Linked DNA regions of Homo sapiens: region 1 is linked to region 2. A link means that fine-mapping ties the variant in region 2 to the expression of a gene that starts in the linked region. Tissue or cell type: Th17 cells. Region 2 holds a variant in brackets; the other region holds the start of a gene. All regions are shown on one strand. Distances are between the middles of the regions.

The links. PIP is the estimated chance that this variant, and not a neighbour inherited with it, causes the effect.
Region 1: it holds the start of HNRNPLL, and the variant in region 2 is fine-mapped to the expression of HNRNPLL in Th17 cells (Schmiedel 2018, PIP 0.95).

Annotation. Positions count from the first base shown.
Region 1 is chr2:38,599,824-38,607,823 of GRCh38, forward strand. It overlaps HNRNPLL (heterogeneous nuclear ribonucleoprotein L like), which reads right to left and starts at 3,105. Exons shown (of 13, transcript NM_138394.4): 1 at 2,615-3,105. The coding sequence starts at 2,803. RefSeq lists silencers at 2,825-2,924, 2,945-2,994, 3,215-3,284.
Region 2 is chr2:38,666,346-38,674,607 of GRCh38, forward strand. It overlaps GALM (galactose mutarotase), which reads left to right. Exons shown (of 7, transcript NM_138801.3): 1 at 1-6. Among named protein-coding and RNA genes, the nearest start is that of GALM, 4.4 kb to the left of the region's middle. RefSeq lists enhancers at 1-33, 34-546. The variant T/C (reference allele first, on the strand shown) is at 4,323.

The sequences.
Region 1 (8,000 bases), 67 kb before region 2:
AATCTTCAAAGGCTTACTTTGCACTTTACAAACTTCCAACTAGAGTTGAAAAGAATGCCATCATTGTACCTAACCTGCATTTACTTTAACAGTCTGACCACAAAGGTATTTCTTCTCTGGGCTGAAGGACCACTGAAGTTGTGCAAAACCCTTTTCGGTTACAATGAATTACCAAACATGTGAACGAAGAAGCACAAGACAGTAAACTTCTATCCGGGGAACGTCTATCCTAATAATAGAATTTTATTATGTACAGGTTTCCATAGTTGCCATGATTTCAAAATAGTACCAAAAATTACATGAAAAATATTTAAAAACAAGATAAACAAGGCTTCATTAGATTTCATAGTACAATGATGGTTTTACTGTTAAATGAAAACAATTCACCCTTTCCTAGGAAACATATCAGCAGTAAGATAAACAAAAAAATTAAAATTTATACCTCAATCTGCTTATATCAGTTCCCGCCGGGGTAACTTAAAAGCAGCATTAGCATTACGTTAATCACTTAACTATAGCTTCGGTTAAAAAAGGCATGTGTTTCAACCTTCATATTTTACAGACTAAGAGAACTCAGAGTAGTAAACTGACTTTCTCAGACTCACACAAATTGTATGCTAAGACCAGGTGCGGTGGCTCACGGCTGTAATCCCAGCACTTTGGGAGGCCAACTCAGGTGGATCTCTTGAGCCCAGGAGTTAAGAGACTAGCTTTGGCAATATGGTGAAACCCCTTCTCTACAAAACACAGAAAAAAAAAATTGGCCCGGCGTGGTGATGCAGGCTTCCAGTCCCAGCAACCCGGGAGGCTGAGGTAGGAGGATCGCTTGAGACAGGGAGATCAAGGCTGCAGTGAGCCGTGATCACGAGCTGCTGCACTCCAGAGCTGCTGCACTCCAGCCCCGGGCCATAGAGTGAGATCCTCTCAAAAAAAAAAAAAAATTGTATGCTAAGCCTAGACTCTTGACCACCCCCAAGCCCTACTCAGTGCCATTTCCACCGCTCCACACATTTCGCTTTGGATACATTAATTATATGTTATTTTCTTCCCAACATCCAAAATAATACTATTGATTTAATGCTTTATCTGTTTTCAAAAACAAATTTTTATAATCTGATTTAAGTATCTTTCCAAAATGCCTGAAGACATTTCATGATGCTGCACAAAAACCCAAGCAAGATTTCTAGCAACGAGGTACACTGATCGAATACATCGAAATATCAGTTATAATATTCCTGTTTCCAATTTCCACAACAGAGTTGGCTTTGAACTGAAACTTCCTAAGAAAAAACCATTTCCTTTATTCACACTTCCAAGTTACATTTTGAATATTTCAAATAGCTCGGCACAAAAATCTAAAGTAATAGCTAACACCGTAACAAGACTGAGAGAAAAAGTTCCTTTTTTAAATGTGTTGCAAAGTTTGCTCTCACATCCTGGTAACTGGAAACTGCAACGCTGGGTGACTGACCAGCCTTTTTTTTTATTATTTAAAAATTCAAACGGCTATAAAGGGCTTCTAATGTGCGTCTTATTTTTAAAAGGTAAGGTAAAAACCCTTTTAACCTAATAGTAGGATATATGTGTACAGTTTCGTAATTCTGTTAAAGTTTGCAGAATTAATCACAATTCATGTGTTAAATGTTTAAATAACATCTAAGTCATTAAAACCGCTTAAGTGCACCAAAAAAGGGCAATAACGTTTGCTCCGCTTTGTTTCCTTAAAGTCTCCATCCAACTGAAGCTAACTACTTGCTGTGGACAAAATGATCACATTCCTTCTGCCTCCCCCTAACATTTCTGGTAAGAGAAAGACCTGGCTCTAGGAATGTGTGTTTAATGCAACCCTGAGCTCACTTCATCCTTTCATGGGGCAAATGTGGAATAAATTACCAATGAAAAACTTTAGTAATTTTAAGATTTGTTTTACTTGAAGGTAGGGGTGTACCAACAGCTGCCAACACTTCTGTTGAAGTGTTGTAACCGAAGAGGTAAAAAGTGTACTGAGTAATCCACAAAATTGGGTAGAGCAAAGGATGCACGCCATGCTTATAAAGAGTTTAATTTTAAAATTTTTTAAATTAAACCTTCAAGGGAACTAGCATGTGAACGCCAAGGCATAATCTGTTATTTAATTACGGGTCTCCATAGGACCGAGGCGGAGAGAGCTCCCGGTAGAACCGACGCAACCATCCCGGGATGGTGACCAACGCGCGGCTGCTGCGGGCAGAGGGACTGAAGAGAACCGGTGGTCCCGACGCTGGCCCCGAGCCCGAGGAGTTAAACTAACAAAGAGCTCCCCGAGCCGCGAAACCCCCCAGAGCGGAAGCGACGCCTCCCCGCCGCCGCCGCCGCGCCGCGACCCTCCCCAAGTTCAGGGCCCGGCAGTGGACTCGCTGCGGGGCCTGCGGCCAGGACGGCGCCGGGTTCGCAGTCGGGATGCGGGAAACAGGTAGAGGCCAGAATACGAGCCCCAAAGAGAAGAGTGGGCGCTTCCCCAAACGGGTCGGCGCAGCGGAAAAGGCTAACTGAAGCAAGCGGGAGGCCCCGCACCGAGGCCCTGCTTCCCGGGGAGCAGCCAGGCACAGCGGACAGGGGGGCCGCGCTTTGTTACCGGCTGAGAGAAGCTCCGGCCGCCGCCGCCGCCATCGCCCCCGCCCCGGGGCGTCGCTTCCCGGCGGTTCTCGCCTTCCTCGGCCGAGTAGTCGATCTCCCCCTCCTCGGTCTTGAGACGCTTGGCCTGGCTCTCGTACTCCCGGTCCTCCTCGTACGTCTCCCTGGGGGAGGAAGAGGAGGAGGACATGGCGGCGGCCGGAGGGACCGGCTGGCAGGCGGGTGGGGGTGGCGGTGGGGCGCGCGCCTCGGATGCCGCCGGCCAGTCCTCGCCGCCGGCAGCGCCTCTTCTGCGAGGGTCTCCGCGGCCCGGCCGTCCGCGGGGACTGCGCGGCCAGGAGACTGGCGGCTGAGAAGCGCGGACGGACTGAGGGGGGCGCCCCGGGAGGAAGCTCTGGAGCGGCCGCTCCTCTCAATTACCGAGCCAACATTCAGCCTCTCCCTCCTCCTCCTCCGTCTCCGCTCCCTGCCCGGAGGAGCGAATCTAAGGATGGGGACGCAACCGTGGCTTCCGGTCTTCCCTCCTCCCCTAAGCCGCTCCCAGCCGCGCAGGCCGAGCCTCCGCCCCCGCCTTCGCGGCCGTCGCGCAGGATCGAATCCAGCCGCAGCCTGCGGGAAGCGCCCCCCCCGGCCCGGGTTCTGCTCCCTATTGGCAGGGGCGGGAAAGTCGACCGGGCTTCCCATTGGCTGTGAGGGCCGTTCGTCAAAAGCCGCCCGCTGCTCGACCTCACTTCTCTCCCCGCGCCTTCTGAACTCGCCGCGGTCCTGGGAGGCCCGGCGCGCAAGGCGCGCCGCCTGGGAGTAGTTGCGACCCGCAACCGTTGGCGCTATGCGGCTCCTACCCGAGGCCAGGCGTGGAGTGAACACGGACGAGCGACGAGAAGTGCGGAGAGGCTAGGGCTGCGGGTGTTAACCGCCCTGCCGCTAATTTAAATGCTTTTTATCACCTCTTAAAAAGAGAATGAGGAAAAAAACCTCTAAAATCCCTGCAGTCATACCCCCCGAAAAGCCCTAAAATTGCAGGCGATGAAGGGAGAAAACGGCTTGGAGCCATGAGAATGGTCTTTCCACTGTTTTGTGTGCAAAATCTGGTAGAAGTGGGCGGACCCTCCCGCCCCTAGCTGGGTGTTGGAGAACAGCTGTCAGCATTGACTGAAGGCTGCGAGGCGCGCGTCGGCAGGAGGCGCTGCACGCGGGCGCTCGTCGGTCTGATCGGTTATAACTCGTTTGTAACCTGGGCCCTTTACTGACTTGCCTGTCCCTGTAAGTCCCTGCTCCAGTTAAATATGTTTTAATCCTTCCATATAAAATCTCATCCTCCATCCCAATTCTTTCTCTTCTGGACAATGTATTTACTTCACTTGATCATTTATTGTCGAAAGATACAAAAGCCTTTCAAAGTTCTGTGATCACAGCTTGCTTCCTCTGTGGTGTCCTGAGGGCTTTTCCAAGATTTTAGTTGCTGCTCTCTTTTTGCAACAGGGCCCCTTATAACTCCCTCTTAAGATGTTCTGTTTTAAAAACTCTGTGAGCGCCTGAAGACAGGAACTGTGTGCAATTTTCATTTTCGCAAGCCCAGTTCCTGTGCGATCTCCAGCACAATTTAGGTGCTCAACAATGCTGAATGAGTAGTCCTTGGGAAATAAAGGTCCAGTGTATCTTTCAGGACAGAAACTGGCAAATCAAGGCAACCTAACTGCCCTCTGTCAGGTGCCTCTTGGAGGACTGCCTGAGATCAAGAGCCTCTTGTGTTTCTGTTGTCCTTGTCCCTCGGATGCTTTCCTAGATGTGGCTCTTCCTTTCCTAAGAGTGTAGATTGCTTCCTCCTCCAGCCTAGTTCTCTCCAAAGTTATTTCCTCCTCCAAAAAAGCTATTTTTATTTATTGCTGAGAGTGCTTTAACATAACACTTTTGTACTTTGTAAATTACACCGGCTGTCATTTTGGAATCTAATTGCAAGATTTTCCACACTATGCAGCTATAATCAAATGTGTGTGCGGCTGCAGGTATACATTGACAAAACAGAACTAAAAAAATTATAAATTTATTTTTTAAATTAAAATGGAAGTCGACAGAAGAAATAGCAAAAGAGTGGCAGAGCTGGCTGCGGATGAGAAAATGTCATTGGCAAAAAGCTCTGCAATGGTTTGGGAAAGTAAAATAGCAACAAGGGAAACAATGATACAATTCTGCTTAAAATATGTCCTATGGATTCATATGTCCCCTAACATATTCAGAATGCAGACATTACCTGGCCTTCAGAAAGCTGAAGATACCAAGGGTCAAAAAAAAGGTCTAACAAACCTACTTCACGTGTTATCTTTAGCATCCATTGTCCTTTTTATAGCAGTCTCAGTATCAAAGATCAGGAAAGGATGAGTGAATTAATAAACTTGATACAAAGGAAACTTCTTTGATGAGGTGAGATGGGCCATTCTCAAGATATTTTTAGTTTGCTCAAATTAAAAGAGAAGAGCTGAGAGCTTAAAACAATTATTTTTTAGGAGAAAGAAAACAATAGAATATTATGTGAAATAATTGAGTGTGATGAGAAGCACTAAATATCTTTTTGTTAAGTATGAGCAACTACCTGTTAATTTTGTTTTATGTACATTTTCATATGCTAGGTGAATTTAGTTTGGTAAATTCTATTCACTCACAACTGGATTTACTAGGCCTTATACAAACTTTCCAAATATTTCTTGTGAAGATGCAAATATTTTAAATTCTCAAAGCCCTGCATTCAACCTATGGATTATACCACATTACAATGCAACTGTCACACCAATGGGTAAGGAAATCCAGCCTTGCCAAACCTAGGGCTGCTGTGCTCAGCGTTCACAAACAGCAGGTGGAATTCAATATGTACCAGTATTAAACTTTGTTCTTTTTGTAAGTAGCCCAGTTGAGTAAAAAAAAAAATATTGAGGGAGTAAAACTTAGAAAGCATTTTTAAAGGACACCAATCAGTTCGTTAACCATGGGTGAAATGCGAGCTTGTTGCAGATGAGTTGTTCAGACAGTGACAGTAGGTCCTTTGATAAGGAAAATACTAGCTAGCTCATCACCAGGGCATGAGGAGCTAAAGAGAGAGGACATAAATTATACTCTACATTATTTCACTTAGGTGAGACAAAGAAATTACACACTGCCCAGTAGCCAGAAATACCTAAGAAAAGCAGAAACAGCTCCTAAATGCCATGACTGTCTGGAACCTCTCATGCATTACGGCCTCAGACCTTTGACTATTTTCTGAACATTTGATTGAATTCGCTGCTGTCAAGTAGGCAGCAGCCAAGAGCTCCCATTGCCACAGCTCAAAGGGGACTCCAGCTATACTGGAGTAGGAGACAGGCTTAGGGCAGGCCTAGGGAAATTGAGAGTCAAGGGCCTTTATAATCAATCCAGCCTCAAATTGCCCTTTAGTTTTAAATCTCGTTACTGATCTATAAAATTTATAAGACATTGTGCTAGGTGATGAGAGGACTACGTGAGCTGGTCCCTGCCCTCTCAAAGCTTGCAATCAAGTTGTGGAAACAAGGCTCATACCCAAGAGATAGGCTACAAGCATCCATATGTAATAATACATATACAATAATTAATAGCCACATTTAATGTGCCAGTCACTGTGCTAACCACTGAAAGGGTTTTGTCAATAAATTCTGACAGAAGCCTTCTACCAGAGGCATTATTATTACTCTTCCCAGTATACAATTAAAGAAACAGTCTAGGGGAGATTAAGAAACCTGCCTTAGGCTGGGCACAGAGGGAGGCAGAGGCACACAGATCACTTGAGCCCAGGAGTTTGAGACCAGCCTAGGCAACGTGGCAAGACCCTGTTTCCACAAAAATTGTAAAAATTAGCCTGGAATGGTGGTGCGTGCCTGTAATCCCAGCCACTCAGGAGGATGAGGTGGGAGGATTGCCTGAGCCCAGGGAGGTCCAGGCTACAGTGAGCCGTGACTGCACCACTACACTCTAGCCTGGGTGTTGGAGTGAAACCCTGTTTCAAAAAAAAGAAAAGAAAAAAAAGGAAACCTGCCCTAGAGCTGCAGTTAATAAATTGAAAAGCCAGGACTGGAACCCAAGCAATCGGGTTCCAGAGCCAGTACTCGTCATCAGAAGACTGATGATTTAATTATTGTGTTATTTATTACCATGGACATACAGATCTAATTTATAGTCACTTATTATATAATGATGCTAATTCATTCACTGATTTCTCCTTTTTATTTATTTCTTTATTTGAGACAGGATCTCACTCTGCTGCCCAGGCTGTGGAGTGCAGTAGCGCAATCATAGCTCACTGTAGCATCTACCTCCTGGGCTCAAGCAATCCTCCCAACCCCAGCCTCCCAAGTAGCTGGGACCACAGGCACATACCACCACACCCAGCTATTTTTTGTTGTTGTTGTTGGTAGAGACGGGAGTCTCACCATATTGCCCAGGCTGGTCTCAAACTCCTGGGCTCAAAAGATCCTCCTGCCTTAGCTTCCCAAAGCATTGGGATCACAGGCATGAGCCACTGAACTCAGCTTCATTCACTAATTTATACCTGGGTTTATGTAGCTATAATCCTGGGAAGGATTGAATACGTTATAGTTTTCATCATTTGCATTTGTATAAGGAAATTCAATTTACTTCCACAGGAAATTACAAATATAATGCACTGTTTTAGTGTTAATTTTTTACTTTTTTTATTTTTATTTTTTTAGACAGGGTCTTGCTCTGTCACCCAGGCTGGAGTGCAGTGGCATGATCTAGGCTCACTGCAACCTCCGCCTCCTGATTCTTGTGCCTCAGGCTCCCAAGTAGCTAGGATTACAGGCTTGTGCCACCATGTCTGGTTAATTTTTGTACTTTTAGTAGAGATGGGGTTTCACCATGTCGGCCAGACTGGTTGTGAACTCCTGGCCTCATGCAATGCACCCACCTCAGCCTCCCAAAGTGCTGGGATTACAGGCATGAGCCACTGTGCCTAGCCTTCAACTTAATTTCTGTAGAAAAAGCCCAGAAATTATGTGAAAAGTGTCACCATTTTCTGATGGATGCATTATTTGAATAACTAAAGATGCAAATTACAAGTTTTTCATACCCAAACTCAATTTCCAATATTGCTGCCATTTCATTGAATATGCAAAACTTTTGTTTCCTGCCTCAACTCCTGTTAAAGTCCAGTAAAACCTTCATGCACATCTTATTGTGAGTCACACTTCCAAAGGATTAGAGCCATAGAGGTGTGTTATGATTAAGACAACATACTTAACATGAAATCCAGCTATTCAGAGACAAATCAGTTAGTTTCTATGAAGTTTTGTTAAATCCAGAGTGCACTATTTCTGACGATGCCACTTGTTTGACAGAGATCACTGAGAAAGAGTACTGTG
Region 2 (8,262 bases):
TGGAAGGTGGGTTGAACTGTGCCCTGGGCTGCGAGCAGGCCCCAGGCCCACGCTACATACCTCCCGGATCTAGCGGGCCACTTGCAATGCGAGGGACCAAGGGGGAAAGTCGCCTAGCTTGGGACCGTCTGACTTGCAAGCGCATGCATCATAGAGGGCCGTGTGGCCATCCAGCATTTGGGAAAAACTGTAATAAATAAACTATGGCAGTTGGCCTCTGGTTATCCGTTCAGGCTTTGCCCCAGTTAACGTAAAAGGTCAGCTGATGGTATGATACACTTCAGCGATCCTGGAGCGATCTTTGAACTGCCTAATCTTTGAACTGCCTGATACCTGGAGAAGGCTGGAGAGGAAAGAGCAGGCAAGAGGGGGTGTGGCTCCCACTTCTTCCCTTCTGAAGAAGGAAATTCAAATACTTGCCTCTTCTACTTCCTTCTTCCTTGATCAGATTCTCTTTGAGGCCTGGTTGTCTCAGAAATGCTCCACTAAGCTCAGTGGTTGCCTAGTACACCAGCTACCCAATAACCATTTAGGAACAAAATAGAGAAGACCAACTCAGTGTCTTCTCAGAGATCAGGTCTCCTACCAACTAGGATGGACTTTTATCCCAGAATCCATGGGCAATTAGGATCAGGCATTAATTAATACATTTGACAACTCTATTAATCCGATGACCTCATTAAACAGGACAGACAAGGTCCCCACTCTTGCGGTTTGGCTGGGGAGATAGACTTTAACTCAGTAATTGCATAAATAAAGAATGACAATTGCAGCTTGATTGCAGCAAAGGAAAATGTACATCATGCTCTCTTAGCACCATGGTGTAACTAGACAGAAAATGAGGTGTGAAATAAAGCTGGCAAAGGGAAACTGAGAGTTAATACTCTCTGCTCAGTGGTTGGGGCGTAGACAAATTCTGCTGGAGAGGAGGTTTGAGGTTTTCCTTTTGGTGTGTCATTCTGTCTGTTTGGTTCTTCCGATACGTAAGATATGTAACTTGGCTCATGGTTACATGTTGGCCAGACCAGCCTGGCCAGCATGGTGAAACCCTGTCTCTACTAAAAATACAAAAAAATTAGCTGAGCATGGTGGCACGTGCCTGTAATCCCAGCTAGTCAGGAGGCTGAGGCAGGAGAATAGCTTGAACCCAGGAGGCGGAGGTTGCAGTGAGCCAAGATTGCGCCACTGCACTCCAGCGTGGGTGGCAGAGCGAAACTCTATCTTAAAAAACAGAGAGCAAATTTCAATTCCTCAGGGAAAAAAACAAAACTCAGCTTTCTGTTGAACACCACCATGCCCGGCTAATTTTTTTGTGTTTTTGGTAGAGATGGGGTTTCACCATGTTGGCCAGGCTGCTGGCGGGCACCTGTAATCCCAGCTACTTGGGAGGCTGAGGCAGGAGAATCACTTGAATCTGGGAGGCGGAAGTTGCAGTGAGCCGAGATTGCGCCACTGCACTCCAGCCTGGGCGACAGAGTGAGACCCCATCTCAAAAAAATAAAAATATACTCTAACCTTTCCCTCTGCCTTTCTGTGTAACAGCTGACCATAAAGAAATTAAGACCCTCATTCCAGAGGGGTCCTGCCCCATACCCGGAGGAAGAAATGCTGCATGGGGAGGCCAAGAAAAATCTGAACACAGGCCTTGCCGAGTTTCCCCACTCACTCTATTAGCAACAGATCTTACCCTTTTGGTCCAATCATATTTCTACATGGCTGTCCATGTTCCATTGGACCTAAGCATAGAAATGGATTGTTTTCCTTGTATCTGTCGGTCTTCATTCTGAAAGCTCCCGTGTCACATAAAACTATAATCAAATAAATTTGTTTGGCTTTTTTATGTATTTTTTATTTTTTAGAGGTGGAGTCTCGCTCTGTCACCCAGGCTAGAGTGGAGTAGTGCAATTATAGCTGACTTGCAGCCTCGAACTACTGGCCTCAAGCAATCCTCCCACTTCAGCCTCCCAAAGTGCTGGGATTACAGACATGAGCCACTGTGCCCAGCTGTTTTGCTTTTCTCTTGTTACCCTGTGTTTGTTGTAGAGGTGTGGGCTGTGACTCTTACAGGGGAGATATACAACACTCTGTTACTATTTTGATGGTGCTCTGATACTACATTTCTAGTGCATTAAAACCTATGTTAACAATAAACTGGTAACAGTGGTTGTTAAGAAAGGATCCTGGGTGCCCAGGGTGCAGAGGATGGGAAGGAGACTTAATTTTCACTGCATATTCTTTTAAACCATCAGAGTATGTAAGTATATATAAACAAACAGAGGTAAATAATTTAAAGTAATAAGACTTGACAGAGGCCGGCATGGTGGCTCACACCTGTAATCCTAGGAGTCCAAAGTGGGAGGATCGCTTGAGGCCAGGAGTTTGAGACCAGCCTGAGCAACATAGTGAGACCCTGTCTCTAAAATAAATAAAAATAAATAAATAAATAAATAAATTTAAATTTAAAAAAAATTTTTTTAAATACTTGACAGAATAAGGGGTTATCTTGACATTACCATATCCCAAAAATGGTTTTGAGCCATGCGGAAGATCTGAGCGTGGATAATTCCATGAGACATGGTCCTTTTGTAACTGCAGAGTTAGATATGAACAATCTTCAATTTCCCAGACAGGTTATATAAACTGTTTGGATGACAGCCATAACCAGAGGTCAGAATGGTTCAGTTTCTCCCTGGGAAAATGGGATTTTTTTCTTTCATAGAATTCTAAAGAAGAAAATTATATAAATTTTTAGTTACAGTAAGAGAGGAGACCACCCCTCATATTGCCTTATGCCCAATTTCTGCCTCCAAAGAAAGAAGTAAAAACTAAAAGGCAGAAACGAAATCCACAGGCAGACAGCCCGGCACTACGCCATGGGCCTGGTAGTTAAAGATCGACCCCTGACCTAACCAGTTATGTTATCTATAGATTCCAGACATTTTATAGAAAAGCAGTGTGAAAATCCCTGTCCTGTTGTGTTCTGTTCTGATTACCGGTGCATGCAGCCCCCAGTCAGGTACCCCTGGCTTGCTCAATCGATCACGACCCTCTCACGCAGACCCCCTTAGAGTCGTAAGCCCTTAAAAGGGACGGGAATTGCTCACGCGGTGAGCTCGGCTTTTGAGACGCAAGTCTGCCTTCTTCAATCCGGTGTCTAAGGAGTTTTGTCTGCGGCTCGTCCTGCTACAACAGCCTAGAAAAATCAGTAATGCCTCCTATGAGTTTTTCAACCTTTTTTTGTATTTAAAAATGTTTTTTGCCGGGCACGGTGGCTCACGCCTGTAATCCCAGCACTCTGGGTGGGTGGATCACAAGGTCAAGAGACAGTGACCATCCTGGCCGACATGGTGAAACCCATCTCTACTAAAAATACAAAAATTAGCTGGGCATGGTGGCGCATGCCTGTAATCCCAGCTATTCAGGAGGCTGAGGCAGGAGAATCACTTAAACCTGGGTGGTGGAGGTTGCAGTGAGCCGAGATTGTGCTACTGCACTCCAGCCTGGTGACAAAGCAAGACTTCATCTCAAAAGAAGAAAAAAAAAGTTTTTCTTTTTTTTTTTTTTTTTAGTGCAGTGGCGCTATCTCGGCTCACTGCAGCCTCCACCTCCTGGGTTCAAGCGATTCTCATGCCTTAACCTCCCAAGTAGCTGGAATTACAGGTGGGCACCACCACACCCGGCTAATTTTTGTATTTTTAGTAGAGACGGGGTTTCACCATATTGGTCAGGGCTGGTCTCAAACTCCTGACCTCAAGTGATCCACCTACCTCAGCCTCCTAAAGTGCTGGGATTACAGGTGTGAGCCACCACGCCCAGCCTAAAAATATTTTTCATCGGCATGTCCCACCTACAGTCATTATGATTTCTTTCAAAGCCTGTGCTGAAAATATTTGCTTATAAGCCACAGGTATAAACAACCTACCCATACAATCATTGAAACGCCTTCCTTTTCATGTTTCCCCCAGTTGCCACCAAAGACCTGGCTATTAACTGCCATGAGAGGCATTAAGGAAAAAATAGAAAAAGTAAATTTAGTGCCTTTAGAAAACCTGGGTTCAGAAGCAGGGATGAGGAAAAAAAAGGATCAGGTTAGAGGCTGCAGTTTATTGTCGCTCACGCCCAGGAGCACCCTGGTGGGAGCATTGAAAATTCCTGGTTTAAAGTTCTGCTTCCTTCCTTAAAGCTGTGCGACCCCGGGCAATTTACTTAAACTCTCCAGACCTATTTTCTCACGTGAAACAAATGGATTGTGATGATTTAATGAGCCATGGGCTGTGATATGTGTCTAACCATATCTGACCACATATTTGATACGTCTCTGA[T/C]CAGAGGGAGCAACTAATCATTTTTATCCCCTTTCTTTCCTTTGCCCCCAAATACCATCTCTGACTCTACTAGAACTTTTTATTTCACTTAATTAACACTGCAAAAAATGGCATGGAGATTCAACTAGGACAGCAAGCAGCCACTAAAAAGTATATAAATTATCTGAGATTACTAAAGTGCTTATTAATTAAATTGTTTTCTTCATATAACCAAAGGATAAGTCATTCTGTGAATGGGGGTTTTGATTGAGAGTGGTGAGTAATTTTATTTCAGACTTTAGTGCACTCTGGCTAATTTTGGGCTGTCCAAATTGGGTGTCACAGTGTGGTCCTTGGGTTGTTAGAGGAGTGGAAAGGGCCATATCCCATGATTAAGCATTTATTAATTTATTCTCGCCAGTGCCTTGCCCAGGAAAGGGGGAAGCGTTTCCTCTACTCTAAGCTCAGCAATTGACTTGGTTAAATCAATATTCATGGCTTGACCTAGGAACTTTGAACATTTTCATGAAAAATAGTATTTTCTGCATTTCAAAACAAATTTTTAGCCATGCCTTATTCGGGATTTGGGGATTGTCACTTTTGTAATTCCGATTTGATGTGAAAGCTTAGTAACTATTAGTCCACTGCTATAGAAGAACTGCCTGAGACTGGGTAATTTATAAAGAAAATAGGTTTAGTTGACTCACAGTTCCTCATGGATGGGGAGGCCTCAGGAAACTTACAATCATGGCAGGAGGCGAGGAGGAAGCTAGACAGATCTTACACGGCAGTAGGAGAGAGACAGAAAGGAGGGGAAATTGCCACTTTTAAATCATCAGCTCTCGTGAGAACTCACTGACTATCACAAGAACAGCATGGGGGAACCGCCCCCCTGATCCAATTACCTCCACCAGGTGGGATTACAATTCGAGATGAGATTTGGGTGGGAGCACAAAGCCAAAGCGTATCAGTAACATTTGAAGGTAGTATAAAATTTATTTGTTCTAAAGGGTTTTTCAGAGACAGGATTTCTGCTGTGCTTAAATTCTTAAAAACTATTCCTCCAGGGGCACAGTGGCTCTCACCTGTAATCCCAGCACTTTGAGAAGCCTAGGTGGGAGGATCACTTGAGCTCAGGAGTTCAAGACCAGCCTGGGCAACACAGGGACACTCTGTCTCTAGAAAAAATACAAAAAGTATCCAGGTGTGGTGGCGCATGCCTGTAGTCCCAGCTATTTGGGAGGCTGAGGTGGGGACCTGAGCCTGGAGGTCAAGGCTGCAATGAGCCGTGATGGCACCACTGCACTCCAGCCTAGGTGACAGAGAAAGACCCTGTCTCAAAAAAACAAAAACAAAAACAAAAAAAACCCTGATAATTATGGGGAAAAAAAAAAACAACAAAAAAACCCTATTCCTCCAAACCAAGGAACTGGCCTGGCAAGTGCTTCTTATCTTCATGACGTGATTGGTTTTGGGTAGTGGTCACTTGTAAGGGAATTCTTGCAAGCCCATGTGGTAGGAGCCCTGCTGTTGGCTTTGTGGTTGTCTCCAACACCCAGTGTGCCTCTGGCAGAGAGCGGGAGCTCAGTGTTCACTTGTTGAATGAATCAAAGTAGGACTCAAAAATCTCTACAGTCAAACATCTTGTTTTTTAGAAAAAAAATTCTGCTTTTCTATAATTTTTGAGCTTCTGAAAAGCGGATGAAACAAAACCAAGGAAAGATTGTTTGGCTCTTTGGGACTCCTTTTGGTTAACCAGTGTATGGGCTTTTAAAGCTATTTTCAGAAAGAGAAGAAGGTGGGGAGAGGTGGGAATAGGAGAGAGAGAGATCAGCCTGGCCTGTGCCTAGGGATGGAGGTAAGGTTAATAACCAGAAAGCCTGCGCTTTTCACATAATTTGATACTGAAGAACATGGACTCATGAGCTAGACTGTCTGGATTCAAGTCTTGGTTCTGCCACTACTTAGCTGTGTGTTTTGGGGCAAGTTATTTAACTTTTCTGTCCTCAGTTTCCACATCTGTAAATTGGGATAGTAATAGTGTCTACATCATAGAAACGTTCTGAGTATGAAATGAAGTAAATGTAGAGCACTTAGAAAGTGGCTGGGACACACTTTGGGAGGCCAAGGCAGGTGGATCACCTGAGGTCAGGAGTTTGAGACCAGCCTGGCCAACATGGTGAAAACCCATCTCTATTAAAAAAAAAAAAAAATTTAGCTGGGCTTGGTGGCGGGCACCTGTAATCCCAGCTACTTGGAAGGCTGAGGCAGGAGAACTGCTTGAATCCAGGAGGCGGACGTTGCAGTGAGCCAAGACCGCACACTGCACTCCAGCCCAGGCTATAAGAGCAAAACTCCGTCTCAAAAAAAACACAACACTCAGTAAGTGTTAGCTATTATGATAGTCAATGGGCAACACTCTGATGCACCTGCAGATTAGCAAAGAAGCAAACCAGGAAAGGCCTGGAAGAGAAGGATTAATGTTTAATTTGTACCCAACCAGTTGGGTAATGGAAACCTGTGACCTGTAACTGGCCTAATCAGCTCAGGGTCTGTATCCTGAGAGCCTCTCCATCCCTTGAAAAAATAGTTCATATGCTTGAATTGCATTCTCTGCTGATCTGAAGTAGACATGACAGATACAGAGTACCACGGGAAAAGGGAATGGAATTCAGAGGACATCTAAGTGAAAACTAGAGTGGAAAGTAATCTTGGTAATAATACAGAAAACAATCTCCAGACCTTAATCTTTTCCATCGTAAAGTAAGCACAGAGGAATTTAAAGAGAAGAAAAGTACCATAATATGCCCACGCCCAAAGTTGTAAGTATGAGGACGCTACTTTGCTTTTTACAGCCCCTCCCCTAAAAAGGCCCCAAACAGTTTATGCTGATTATTATACCATGTAGCCATCAAAAGTAATATGGGGCCGGGGCGGGTGGATTACAAGGTCAGGAGATCGAGACCATCCTGGCTAACACGGTGAAACCCCGTCTCTACTAAAAATACAAAAAATAAGCCGGGCATGGTGGCGGGTGCCTGTAGTCCCAGCTACTCGGGAGGCTGAGGCAGGAGAATGGCGTGAACCTGGGAGGCGGAGCTTACAGTGAGTTGAGATCGTGCCACTGTACTCCAGCCTGGGCGACAGAGCGAGACTCCGTCTCAAAAAAAAAAAAAAAGGGAACTCAAAAAAAAATAAAAAGGAATATGGTAGATATGTCATGACATGGAGCAATCTGAAGATATTTGATAAATGAAAAGTTGCAGAACAATGTACGATTATAGTGTGATACTCTATGTAGTATGATTCTCTTTATATGGAATATGTGTGTTTGTGTATTTATATATTTGCTAATATGTAGTTAATTCAAATTTTTAAATGAAGTGTACGTGCCAGACTGTTAATAGTGGTTACCATTGGAAAGGAGGGGAGTGGAGAGGTGAAGGAAGGCTTTTGTGTTTTAGTCCTTGTTTAGGTTGCTAGACTTCACAAATAAAAGTACAGGATGCCTGGTTAAATGTGGATTTCAAATAAACAGCTTATACTTTTTTTTTTTTTTTTTTTGAGACAGTCTCGCTCTGTCGCCAGGCTGGAGTGCAATGGCATGATCTTGGCTCACTGCAACCTCTGCCTCCTGGGTTCAAGCGATTCTCCTGCCTCAGCCTCCCAAGTAGCTGGGACTACAGGCACAGGCCACGACACCCAGCTAATTTTTGTATTTTTAGTGGAGACGGGGTTTCACCGTGTTGGCCAGGATGGTCTCAATCTCTTGACCTCGTGATCCACCCTTCTCAGCCTGCCAAAGTGCTGGGATTACAGGCGTGAGCCACCGCGCCTGGACACAACTTTTAAAGTATAAGTATGTCCCATGTATAATAATAACATGAACAAACTTATACTAAGCAATTATTTGTTGTTTATTTGAAACTCACATTTAACCAAGCATTCTATATTTCCTCTG